Regions from separate parts of the Homo sapiens genome. Here regions 1, 2 and 4 are each reported to be linked to region 3. The links are microRNA targets in miRTarBase. Many come from high-throughput screens and were not tested one by one. Region 3 holds a microRNA gene; each other region holds the end of a gene's coding sequence.
Evidence for each region. The annotated mature microRNA hsa-miR-516b-5p reads AUCUGGAGGUAAGAAGCACUUU and lies in region 3 at 1,966-1,987, shown strand. An mRNA with a match to its seed (bases 2 to 7 or 8) in the 3' UTR can be bound and repressed. Matches are read on the target gene's strand: a 7mer-m8 pairs with bases 2 to 8, a 7mer-A1 pairs with bases 2 to 7 and ends in A, and an 8mer does both.

Region 1 (3,000 bases), not on the chromosome of region 3:
GAGAGTCAAGGGGAGTGATGACTATTTCAGAGACAGGAAAGGACAGAAGAGATGACCAAAGGCACCCCCAAGGGATCAAGGCACAGAGGAAGAGGGACTTCATCCACACAGGAGCCTGGCTCCTGCAGGCCATGGCATGGCTCTCGGGGCTGCCAGCAGGGCTCCCCATAGCATAGGTGTGCTCTGCGGTGGGCCCTTGGGCAGGGTCCTGAGGACAGTGCCAGGGCCAGGCTCCAGTGCAGCACAATGTTGGGCAAAGGACTCCTAACACAGCCACGCTGGGGCTACTCAACCCGACAGTGGGGAGGGAAGGTGTGGGTGCTCACAAGGCAGGCATCCATAGAAGACGCTGCCCAGGTCCAAGTCAAAGAACTACACGTTCTCATCCGAGCCCTCGGCACTGAAGACCTCCACCATGGGCTGACCTCTCTCCTGACTGCCAGATACAGCAAAGCCTGGCTTACCCAGAAAACAGCTGGGGTCTTCTGCTTAACTCAGTTCCATCAAACTACCCAAGGGGTAACAGATTCTGGATGAATTTTTTAAAGGGTCTCAAGTTAAATGTTTCATTCATGATTCACAAAAGGCACTTCAAAATTCCACAGAGCCACAGGGTCACTGTTAGTAGGTCACCAATCCTCCTGTACAGGACCGATGGAGAAGCTCTAAGACAATGGGCTATGTGTTTCACCTGATGGGGTCCCTGGCCATTTGTAAATAAATCTCGGATATTAGCTAGTTTGTCATTTATCTTGCAGTCAAGCATACACAAAACAGAAAGACACACAGTATGTTTGCACTTTGAATAAATGAGATTTTGCTGTATCATGGCAGTTTATAAAGTATTCTCAAGTCTGTTATTTGACCTAAGATCCAACATTATAATCGTACATTTAAGAGGTTACAATGTGAGAGGTACTCATTGAGCAGAATTTTCTAATAATCTAATCACCTTGCCGATTTGCACCCAGTGTCCATTTAGAAACATGAAATTAAGCTACTGGCACTCAATTGCCACATTGCTAGCATTTAATAAGGACTCCACTAGATGGAGGAACAAGGGCTCTCAAACCAAATAACCAACGACCACAAGCATTTCCTGTCAGACAAGCCAAGGTCCTGCTGGAGCTGCCTCTGAAGGCAGCCGGCTGATGGACAGGCCTGGTCTTCCCTCTGTGTGCCCCACTGCCAGGTGGCACCTTACCCTGCGCAGGCGCTCAGCCTGCGCGGTGGTACAGATGCTTCACTCACACTTGCCGGGGGCTAAAATCACAGCCTATGACCAACCTGGCCTGGGGTGTTCTGAGGTAGTTCCTGAACTCGGGATGCCTGTTACCTACTCTCTTTCAGAAGTCAGGACATGTAGGAAGTATTAAAATATCCATGCATCGCTTTCATCAATAATCACTGTAATTGAGTGCAAAATAAAGGAAACTTGAGTTGCTTTATTTAGCTTCCAATTTCTGGGAGGCTCAAGAATTATAAGTATTCTGGACAACAAAAGAAAATAAGACTGTGCTTACAGATCTTGTTCTGCCATATTCTTGCTTTAGGATTGCTATTTTATTGTTGCCCTTTCTGTTACATGGGATGTACACATCAGGTGTTAAAAGGTACAATACATTCTACAACTGAGCACCACTTTCTGTAACTGAACAGGCAAAGAAATTACACTGAACATCAGCATCTGGCAGTATTTTTTTGGAAAAAAAAAGTGACTAAAATGGGTTTAAATTGATTAACACTATTAAATCACATCTAATATTTGATACTACATGATTCAATACAGCTATACGATACAATTATACAAAATGTGTTAACATCAAAGAATACAACCAAAATTAAGATAGCAAACAAAACCTATATAACTTTTTTTTTTTTACAGGAAAATACTTTTGAAGTATGCATGTAACTGCCCATTCTTTTAAAGAAAATCTACTGCAAGCAAAGTTATCAACCTCCAGAAAAATCACACGTAGCATTACTAAGCATATCCCCAAAAAAGTGTACAATATGCACACTTGGAAAATACAAAATTAAAAAAATTGTAAGCAACAGGTGAGCTTCATATTTATAAGAATGTGAAAAGAAGTCCCATTTTTAGCACTGTTGTATAAAGAATTGTCTTTTGATGCGAAGTTCATGAATTGTCCTCCTGTTGGGACCACACTTTACAAAAACACTGTGTTTTTGAAACGAGATTACAGAGCAAGATAGAGCATCTTAGCAATGTCATCTTAGTAAAGTTTTTTTTTTTTAATTTTTACTACTTTATCAAAACATGTCCCTTAGGTGTGTAGGATTCATTTTTAAAATTCTTCCTAGAAATAATATACAAAGGAGAGGCATATTTATTCCCAATCACACTTCTGGAAGATGCTTCCCGTGGTCGAGAAGGGTCTTCTCTCTTCTTTTCACTGGTTGTTTTTGGCCTTAGCATGTGTTAAGATGTGAGATTTCAGGTTAGTTGACTGAGCAAACTTCTTATTACAACCATCGAAGGGGCACACATAGGGCCTGTCTCCGGTATGGATTCGCACATGTGTGCGCAAATTGAAGTCCAGTGAAAAGCGTTTCCCACAGCCTTCGAACGTGCACTGTCAAGGAAAGACCAGAGATCAACCCACTCAGCAACTCTGACCAGACCCTGGGAGTCAGGAGCTCACTGCTTTGCTAGAGAACAGCCTATTTATTTTACCAAACACTTTTCATTCCTGCCCTGGGTGAACTTTGTGGATATAGTCTAGAATCAGCAGGCAGGTTGGACAACCCCGAAAACCCAAGGAGAGCCCTCACGAACTGTTTAAAACACTTGGCAAAATGGCAAGTCTTCCTAAATGCAGGCTAGAGTCCTAGTGCTGCTGTAAACATTTCCAACAGTAAAATACAAATGATTAAGGGTTCTGGTGTCAGTTGTCAAAAAAGAACCACGTTAGATTTACTAGCTGCACTGCTAGTTCTTTCACTTATTTATGGGCTAAAGTATTACCTATACTTACA
Region 2 (3,207 bases), not on the chromosome of region 3:
AATGATGGTTCTTTCAAGAGAGTATTTATTTATTCTAGGTTCTGTGGTTCATAATCAAAGTCTGCTAGCTGGTAAGTTCCCTATTTGAGTGTTTGTATATTGTCTTAGATCATGATTTACAGGTTTGGGATATGCACATTTTGTTTTGCCAGCTGTACTCTATTTATGCTCCCTGAAGAGCATAAACAAGGCTGGGTCTTTATTGTTCATATTATTCCACTGAATTTAGCACTCAATATGTAAGTAGTCAATAAATATTATGTAATGAGTATGAGACTAATCTTAAAAACTTCATTTCTACAAAATGTGATTTGCAAGCCAACTTATGTCCTTTTTGAAGCAAGGGAGTAAATAAATTTTTTTTTTTTTTTTTGATACGCAGTCTAACAACTGTCACCCAGGCTGGAGGGCAGTGGTGTCATCTCGGCTCACTGCAACCTCTGCCTCCCGGGTTCAAGTGATTCTCCTGCCTCAGCCTCCCGAGTAGCTGGGATTACAGGTGCCCACCACCACGCCTGGCTAATTTTTTTTGTATTTTTAGTAGAGACAGGGTTTCACAGTGTTGGTCAGGCTGGTCTTGAACTCCTGACCTCATGATCCGCCTCCTCGGCCTCCCAAAGTGCTGGGATTACGGGCTTGAGCGACTGCGCCCGGCCCTCGAGGGGATAAATACATTTTTAACTGCCACAATTTAAGAATTCTCTTGGGTATGACAGTTGTCTTAAACAGAGCTTACCACTGATACCAGAAAGGGTCTGGATCCAGACGCCAAGAGAGGATTCTTGGATCTTGTGCAAGAAAGAATTGAGTCCATACAGCAAAGTGAAAACAAGTTTAAGTAAAGAATAGGCTGGGCGCGGTGGCTCACACCTGTAATCCCAGCACTTTGGGAGGCCGAGGCGGGCGGATCACAAGGTCAGGAGATTGAGACCATCCTGGCTAACATGGTGAAACCCCGTCTCTACTAAAAATACAAAAAAAAAAAAAATTAGCTGGGCATGGTGGTGGGTGCTTGTAGTCCCAGCTACTCAGGAGGCTGAAGCAAGAGAATGGCGTGAACCCGGGAGGTGGAGCTGGCAGTGAGCTGAGATCACGCCACTGCACTCCAGCCTGGGTGCCAGAGCAAGACTCCATCTCAAAAAAAAAAAAAAAAAAAAAGTAAAACATAAAGAATGGCTACTCCATAGGCAGAGCAGCCCCAAGGGCTACTGGTTGCCCATTTTTAAGGTTATTTCTTGATTATATGCTACACAAGGGGTGGATTATTCAGGCCTCCCCTTTGTAGACCATATGGGTAACTTCCTGATGTTGCCATGGCATTTGTAAACTATCATGGCACTGGTGGGAGTGTAGCAGTGAGGACAGCCAGAGGACACTCTCATTGCCATCTTGGTTTTGGTGGCATTTGGCCGGCTTCTTCACTGCAACCTGTTTTATCAGCAAGGTCTGTATGACCTGTATCTTGTACTGACTTCCTATCTCATCCTGTGACTAAGAATGTCTTAACCTCCTGGGATTGCAGCCTAGTAGGTCTCAGCTTCATTTTACACAGTCCCTATTCAAGATGAAGTTGCTCTGGTTCAAAAGCCCTTGATACAAGAGCTTGTCAGCTTACATACCTTTTTTTTTTTTTTTTTTTTTTTTGGAGACAAGGTCTCACCATGTCACCCAGTTTGGAGCGCAGTGGTACAATCTCAGCTCACTGCAACCTCCGCCTCCGAGGCTCAAGCGATCCTCCCACCTCAGTCTCCTGAGTAGCTGGGACCACAGGTGTGTGCCACCATGCCTGGCTAATTTTTGTATTCTTGGGAGAGACAGGGTTTTGCCATGTTGTCCAGGCTGGTCTTGAACTCCTGAGCTCAACCGATCTGCCTGCCTCAGCCCCCCAAAGTGCTGGGATTACAGGTGCGAGCCATTGCACCTGGCCTAACAACTTGTATATCTAAGAATAGCCTGAAAATAATGTCAGCATGGGCTGTACTTCCCCAATTTTAGGAAAGGAAAGAGGAACTAAAATTCTATTTCAGATATGAGCCTCTGAATTTCAAAAAAAAATTGGGAGAAAATAGACAACAACAAGACAAAAAATAATACACTTTGACCTTGGGCTTGTTGTAGCTTTCCCTGGAAATAAGGTGTGCTTTCTCTCTGCAATCAGATGACAATGGGAAGAGTCTGACTGTGTTTGGGAACTGGTTTACTAAGCCTAAACAAATAAACAATTTTTTTTACTTGCAAAAAATGTCAAGTTACATTTTCTCAAAATTACTTGACATAATACTAACTTAATTGAATGCTTATAAAAATCAAGGAACAAGCAAAATGGTTAGATGTAATAAATTCAAACAAGCTTGAGCATATCAAGTTTTCAAAGCACAGAAAAAGGCATACTGTGCTGAACCACTTACATGTGCTTAAAATGCACAAAGGAGCTCACCTATGACAAAACGGCAGGAAATACAAATTCTCTTCTTTTTTTCTCATTGTCTTTTGAGAAACAATAGACTTACAGTAGTCCTTGAATAGCACAGTCCTCTGGCTTTGTACCTTAACATGTTACAAAGTTCAGTCTTGTGAAAGGAGTGTAGATACCATATTGGAGCTATTCTGAGTCTGGTGCAATGGTTTCTGGAATTTGCCTTGAATCCACACTCGGTGCATTTTCACTTGTTTTTTCCTATTAACTTGTAAGCGGCGATCAACCAGATTTTGCTTTTCATCTAAACTGGCTTTGCAGAACATACTGTGGACTTCCCCTGTGAGACAAAAATGGCAATAAAAGATATGACATGTGACTAGAGATGGGGGAGGTCAGGAGTAGAACACTGATGGAATAACTGACCATCTAAATTTCATTTATACAAGAAACACTCTCTAGAACAATTTGGTGAAGGAAACCTGTGAAACCAAGCGAGTTTCTTCTATTTCACAAAAATACACCATGCATATAAAAATACACCTGTTTACAGACTAACACGGCAGACATCAACAGATATATAAAACTATTGGTTGCAGCTTTCAATATTTTGAAAGGTGCTCCCTTTCTGAGTTTTTGTTGGTTTACAGAAACCCAAAACGGCAGATTATAAAAGTACTCACATAAATTTGGGGAAATCCTTGAATGCAGCATTCACTTGGTACTGTTAGAAATGCATTTTTAAAAATGTGAAATTGGTTGGGCATGGTGGCTCACGCCTGTAATCCCAG
Region 3 (3,207 bases):
TAGAGGGAAGCACTTTCTGTTGTCTGAAAGAAACCAAAGCGCTTCCCTTTGGAGCGTTACGGTTTGAGAAACTCAATGTTGAAGTTGATGCTGACTTCAGTAATACATTTGTAGAGGATGCTTATCATCAGACTTGGATGATATCGGGGTTCTGTGCTTTTTTTTTTTTTTTTCTCCTAAGACAAAATCTGTATTTTCCAGGCTGGAGTCCATAAGCACTTCCAACCTAGGTCTCTTGCGCTCAGATAGTCCTCTTTTTTGGGACAGAGTCTTGCTCTGTGACCCAGGCTGGAGTGCAGTGGCGTGATCTCGGCTCACTGCAACCTCTGTCTCCTGGGCTCAAGCAATTCTCCTTCCTGAGCTTCCTGAGGAGCTGGGATTACAGGCGCCTGACATCATCCTTGGCTAACATTTGTATTTTTCTTTTTTATTCATGTATTTATTTACTTTTCAGATGGAGTCTCGCTGTCGACCAGGCTAGAGGGCAGTGGCACGATCCCGGCTGACTACAACCTGTACCTCTCAGGTTCAAGCAATTCTCCTGCCTCAGCCTCTGGAGTAGCTGGAATTACAGGAACACACCACCAGGCCCGGCTACTTTTTGTATTATTATTATTATTATTATTTTTTTTTTTTTTCACTAAAGAGGGGGTTTCACCATGTTGTCCAGAGAATACAAGCATGAGCCACTGCGCAGCCATCAACACCTTTTACTGCATGGAAATTATTCTGGCACTGGTATAGAACCTCACATGGGGTCAGGTGGAGTTGAGGGGACCTCAGTGTCCCTGCAGATGGGATGAGCAAGAGCACGGAGGTGGAGTGCATGGGGCTTCAGTGTTTATTGGGGAAATGAAGCTGAAATCTTGGGTGCATGACCAGGAAATAAATGCATGAGACAGGGGTCTCACTGTGCCGCCCTGGCTAAAGTGGTCTTAGATCCTCCTGCCTCTGCCCCTCCCCAGTCCTAGGTAGATGGGACTACATGTGAATATTAACCCATGCACAGACAAGAAGAAAGTAAGGACTGTTATTTTGTTCGTACCCAGCCCCCAGTTAAATTTATCATATATATAATATATCATATATATAACATAATCATATACACACAAAATGCTGATTTGAATACAGAGAATACTCTGATATCACTTTGGGTATTTTTTGGTTTGTTTCTGTGTGTGTGTGTTTTATTTGTTTGGTTGGTTATTTTTGAGACAAGGTCTGGCTCTATCACCCAGGCTGGAGTGTAGTGGTGCGTTCTCAGCTCACTGCAACCTCCGCCTTCCACCTAAGCCTGCTGCATTAGTGTCTACAGGCATGCACCACCACACCCGGCTCACTTTTGTATTTTTTGTACACATGGGGTTACACCATGTTGCCGGGGCTGGTCTCGAACTCCTGACCTCAGGTGATTCTCCCGTCTTGGCCTCCTAAAGTGCTAGAATTAGAGGTGTGAGCCACCGTGCCCCACCTGTACTTGTGTATTTATGTTAAAATTGTGTTAAGGAGTTTTTATGACCAAGCCTGTGATCTATTCTGGAGAATATTTGTGCGTATGACAATGTATATTCTTCAACATCGTAGATTCCATTTTGGATGCTCCCACTGGGACTGTGTGCCTATACTGGAACTCAAGTGAACACTTGGCTCAAAATCCATTGCTGTTCTCTAGAAATCCAGCCCAATTCTCTTGGTTAAATATAAGGTATGTGTAGTAGGCATTGCTTTTTCTTTCTAGAGACAAAACTCAGGAGGATTGCCCCTTGATGAACAAGGTAACCTGCTGATTCTTTGAAACAAGAAACTGGAGATGGTTCCTTTAGGGGTTTATGTTCTGGATTCCAGGAAACATGCAAACAGGGCCCACAAATGCATCTTTATGTTTGTGTCCATTTTAACCTGGTCGAAGAACATTCCAACAAAAAATCCACCATGCACCGAGCAAGAATATCTCAGGCTGTGACCATCTGGAGGTAAGAAGCACTTTCTGTTTTGTGAAAGAAAAGAAAGTGCTTCCTTTCAGAGGGTTACTCTTTGAGAAAAGCAACGTTGAAGTTGATGCTGATCTTGGTAATACATTTGGAGAGCATGCTTATCATCAGACGTGGATGACGGTTGGGTTTTGTTTTTGTTTTATTTTTTATCTTAGGCAGGGTCTCTGTTGCCCAGGCTGGAGTGTGTTGGCACTTCCAACCTAGATCTCTTGGTCTTAAATGGTCCTCTTTTTGGGGGGCGGAGTCTCACTCTGACCCAGGCTGGAGTGCAATGGCAGGAACTCCCCTCACTGCAACCTCCACCTCCCGGGTTCAAGCGATTCTCCTGCCTCAGTTTTCCGAGTCGCTAGGATTACAGGCTCACTCCTCCACACCTGGCTAATATTTGTAGTTTTCTTTATTATTCATTTATTTATGTGTTTTTGAGAAGGAGTCTCGCTGTCGCCCAGGCTGGAGTGCAGCTGCACAATCTCAGCTCACTGCAACTTCTGCCACTGGAGTAACTGGGATTTCAGGTGCGTGCCACCACACTTGGCCAATTTTTTATGTGTGTATTTTTAGACCCGGGGTTTTCCCATGTTGGCCAGGCTGGTCTGGAACTCCTGACCTCAGGTGACCCATGCACCTCGGCCTCCCAGAGTGCTGGGATTACAGGCATCAGCCACCGCACCCGGCCCTGTCTCTGACTTTTGCGAACTGAGGAAGTAACCTTTTGAAATTTACTCTGAAGTGTGAATGATTTTAGCATATTTTCAACCACCAACATTCTAGTTCAGGAGATTTTCATCACCCCAAAGAGGCTTATTCCCATTTGCAGTCAGTTCCCACCCCACTCTTCCACCCAGACCGTGACAAACACTTTGCATCTCTCTAGCTCTGGATCTGCCTCTTGTGGGCATGTCACATAGATCAGTTTTGAATAGGTGGCCTGTTGTGACCACTGTAATTGAGGATAATGGGTTGGTCCTGGTTGTCTGCAGTGTGAATCTTACCACTGAAGGGTGGTCCCTGGATGGAAGCAGGAGGCTGGGAGAACTGGGCGGAACATCCTTTGGGAATGGAGTCGGGCGGGCAGACCCTGATGCCTGGGAAGCTCACAAGGGTGGAAGACCACATCTTCCTCCCTGAGAACTGCAAGGTGACCCTCCTGGGGTACTGGAAGGAGTGAAGGCCTCTGGACTGGGAACACCAGGGCATTGCACCGGTGCAGGCA
Region 4 (3,000 bases), not on the chromosome of region 3:
GGAGTCTTAGACCACCCTGGGCAACATAGAGAGACCCTGTCTCTACAAAATAAATAAGTAAATAAAACACCTGAAACACTAAAGATTTACCCTTAGCTCTCTTCCATAACACCAACCTTTTCAAAAATATGCTACATCACAATTTTTAAGAATGTCTTGAGCTCAGAACATGTCTATTCTATACTATCAAGCTGATCTTTTAAGTAGCACATAGTAGAATTAAAGCCTAAGTAGATTTTGTTATTCTAACTGTTTTATCAACATTTTCAGCAATGTCTTCAATGATCAGAAATCAAGAAAAGAGGATACAGAAAGTAAAAGACCAGGAAAAAATGTTACTAAAATGACTCGTTGCTTGCCTATTCTTTACAGAGGAATGAGGCCCAATTAATTGTGGTGTTACTCGTAATTAGTGCCCTGTGTACTTTTTCTTTTTATGTGAAAATTTAATAAAAGATACCCTGTCTTGTAAACTCTATTTTGAAATAAACTATTCTTGAATCCCTCACAGTAAAACTTCAAACATCTACTAGCTAGTATTCATACATTATAACAATTAATACCTATAAAGTATTCATACATAATAAGGTATTATAATTACCTTATAAGGTGATTAATTATAAGATATAATTTGTGCTTATTCTAATATATTGGAATAATTGTGGTTTTTTATTGTTACTGGTCCCAAGACAATAGAATCTATTTTATTTATTTTATTCTACTTAAATTTTAATTTAATTTAAATGTTTTATTCAATCTAATTTAGCTTCAAAAAAAATCTGGGGGAAGAACTACTTTCACATGAAAGTGAAAGACGTGGTGTAATACCAAGGACAGAGGACAAATTTCAGCATACTAACAGGGGCTCATTTTGTGACTGTGAACTCACTGTTCTGTCAATATCAGTGAGGGTAATCAGATAACCTAACATCAGGGCCCCCAGTCAAAACTTTTACAAAAGTTTCCCTTTTTTGCATATTAATAATAGTAAAGAAAATGATTTTGTTACTCTTTAGCAAGTTGGTAACTTCTAGATTATATCTATTCAGTCTGCTTTAATTAAATTTTAATAAATTAGGGAGGTTTATATGTGAACTAAATAAAATGAGAGAAGAACAAATACAAAAATGTATCAGTTGTGTCAAAACATCAGGGACAACGTGGCAGATGGCTAGCTGTCCAAAATAAATCTTATGTTCCTGTTGTATAACCTGGAATTGTCACTGAGAAACAGCTGCCCAGCAAGAGTCTCTATTTCCCAATCCTGCCTCCCCTTGTATATGGGTGTGGCCTGAGGGTTCTCATTAACAGAATGTGGACAGAGCAATATGTGGCACTTTCAGGTCAAAGTGTTAACATGCATGGGTGTTCTTCCTAACTTTATTTTCCCCTCCATGGGCTGGATGCAGAGGACATGAGGGTTATTATAGGGGATGGCAGAGCCACAGGGCAGAAGGGAGTCTGGGTAACTGAATCTCTGCAAGGAGGGGAGCTGCCCTCCTGCCAGGAAGACTCACTGCTGACAGTTACATGAGCAAGAAATCGGCCTCTGGTGCTGCAGCCTTCTTAAATGGATGGTGTCTATTACAGCAGCTAGCAGCAGCCCTAACCTATGCAGACAACAAATGGAGTAGGGCATGCATGCTCTCACCAGAAGATCCTCACGCTTCTGCTCTCAAGGACAATGTTAGAACTGTAAGCACATCCAATTTTAAGTGAATTTTTAAAATATAAAGTGTAATATTTCTCTCTTAGATCAGTTGGCTTTACTGAAAGATTAATTTTAATTTTACCAGGTAGTGATAAAATAGCCAGTAATAGAATTCTAGAGAGACTTTTACTTAAATTGTTTTACCTTTAATTTTCCTCATGGGCATGTTTGGGCATTCCATGCAGTAATGGTGAATGCCTTCTGCAGAGCTTACTGGTACAATATAAAATTCATTATGAAGTCTGTAAACAGTATACATGAATTTAACATAAAAGTGCTATGAGCCAAAAACTGTCAAACATAGTTCTTTTAAGTACTTTCTAATGCTATTTTCAGTTGGGTTTATTCTTTTCAGCAAAGACCATCTGTTTAAAAGGATTAAACATTATTTCACTGATAGATGTTAAACTTATTAAAAGTTATTTTAACATGTAAGAATTCATTTTCAAGTACAGGCGTGCTGAATTTCCCTCCAGTCAAAGGTGAACTTTGAGAATAAATATTGTCAACTTTTTCTCCAAAGGGAGGAGAAAAACAGAATCTTCATGTCTTCTGTACCTTTTGATGTTTGCTTTTCTGTATATGTCTCTTATTAGTGGAGGAAAATATTTGTATTTTATTTTACATCTAGGCTATTGTGATACTAAAATTTAGACAAATAATTCAGACATCAAATGAAGATATTAAAATTCAGGTTTTATTATTTGTTCAGTTATAATAATTTAAGTTAATATTTGCTGTATTCTCAGAGCAAAGATGTATTTCTGTACCACTGTCCTGTATAAATTTGTTACCCAAGATAGTGACTGGTATGAAAGGAGAGGGAAGAGGGTGACAGATGGAAACGATTGCTGTAGGACAGTCCATCTGGCCAGATGCGGTGGGGGAGGGGAGAAGAAGTGGGAGAGAGATGGTCCTACAGATGCTCCCATGGGTAAATGATGGGTGCATCCCTCCCTGCAGTCGGGCTGTGCCTGTACTTCACAGTCCTCTAAGAGGTGTCATTCAGGCCACCTCACTCAGCCTATGCCCAACCCCACTCACTTTCCCTTTCCTTATGGGCTGCCCCCGCAACTGACTTCCATGATGATTGGTTCTCATTAGGCCCTTTGTTTCTACACCAGCCTTAGATCATTAAGACAAAGACGTACTTGCTACCCTCATAGCACATAACAACGCCTGGCAGATGAAAATCAAACAAAAAGCATTAGGCAGTCTTAGAACATTATCTTGTATCCTTACTAATCACATCCAGACCAGATATTTTCTAATCACAGTTTCGTATCATG

Region 1: the mRNA of YY1 is a reported target of hsa-miR-516b-5p. Seed matches in the 3' UTR shown: 7mer-A1 at 2,368-2,374, 7mer-A1 at 1,489-1,495 and 7mer-A1 at 528-534.
Region 2: the mRNA of METTL8 is a reported target of hsa-miR-516b-5p. The part of its 3' UTR that is shown has no 7-base or 8-base seed match.
Region 4: miRTarBase lists CCDC158 as a target of hsa-miR-516b-5p. The part of its 3' UTR that is shown has no 7-base or 8-base seed match.

What each region holds. Positions count from the first base shown.
Region 1 is chr14:100,277,015-100,280,014 of GRCh38, reverse strand. YY1 (YY1 transcription factor) reads right to left here. Exons shown (of 5, transcript NM_003403.5): 5 at 1-2,597. The coding sequence ends at 2,415. MIR6764 (microRNA 6764) reads right to left here and starts at 2,658; the gene lies at 2,598-2,658. It also overlaps a transcript of SLC25A29 not described here. RefSeq lists an enhancer at 702-1,682.
Region 2 is chr2:171,321,607-171,324,813 of GRCh38, forward strand. METTL8 (methyltransferase 8, tRNA N3-cytidine) reads right to left here. Exons shown (of 10, transcript NM_001321154.2): 10 at 1-2,756. The coding sequence ends at 2,566. Among named protein-coding and RNA genes, the nearest start is that of METTL8, 110 kb to the right of the region's middle. RefSeq lists a silencer at 2,373-2,667 and an enhancer at 2,749-2,848.
Region 3 is chr19:53,734,895-53,738,101 of GRCh38, forward strand. It overlaps MIR516B1 (microRNA 516b-1), which reads left to right and starts at 1,951; the gene lies at 1,951-2,040. It overlaps MIR518D (microRNA 518d), which reads left to right; the gene lies at 1-69.
Region 4 is chr4:76,310,517-76,313,516 of GRCh38, reverse strand. It overlaps CCDC158 (coiled-coil domain containing 158), which reads left to right. Exons shown (of 25, transcript NM_001394954.1): 25 at 271-478. The coding sequence ends at 347. FAM47E-STBD1 (FAM47E-STBD1 readthrough) reads right to left here. Exons shown (of 7, transcript NM_001242939.2): 7 at 2,387-3,000. It overlaps STBD1 (starch binding domain 1), which reads right to left. Exons shown (of 2, transcript NM_003943.5): 2 at 2,387-3,000. Among named protein-coding and RNA genes, the nearest start is that of STBD1, 5.3 kb to the right of the region's middle.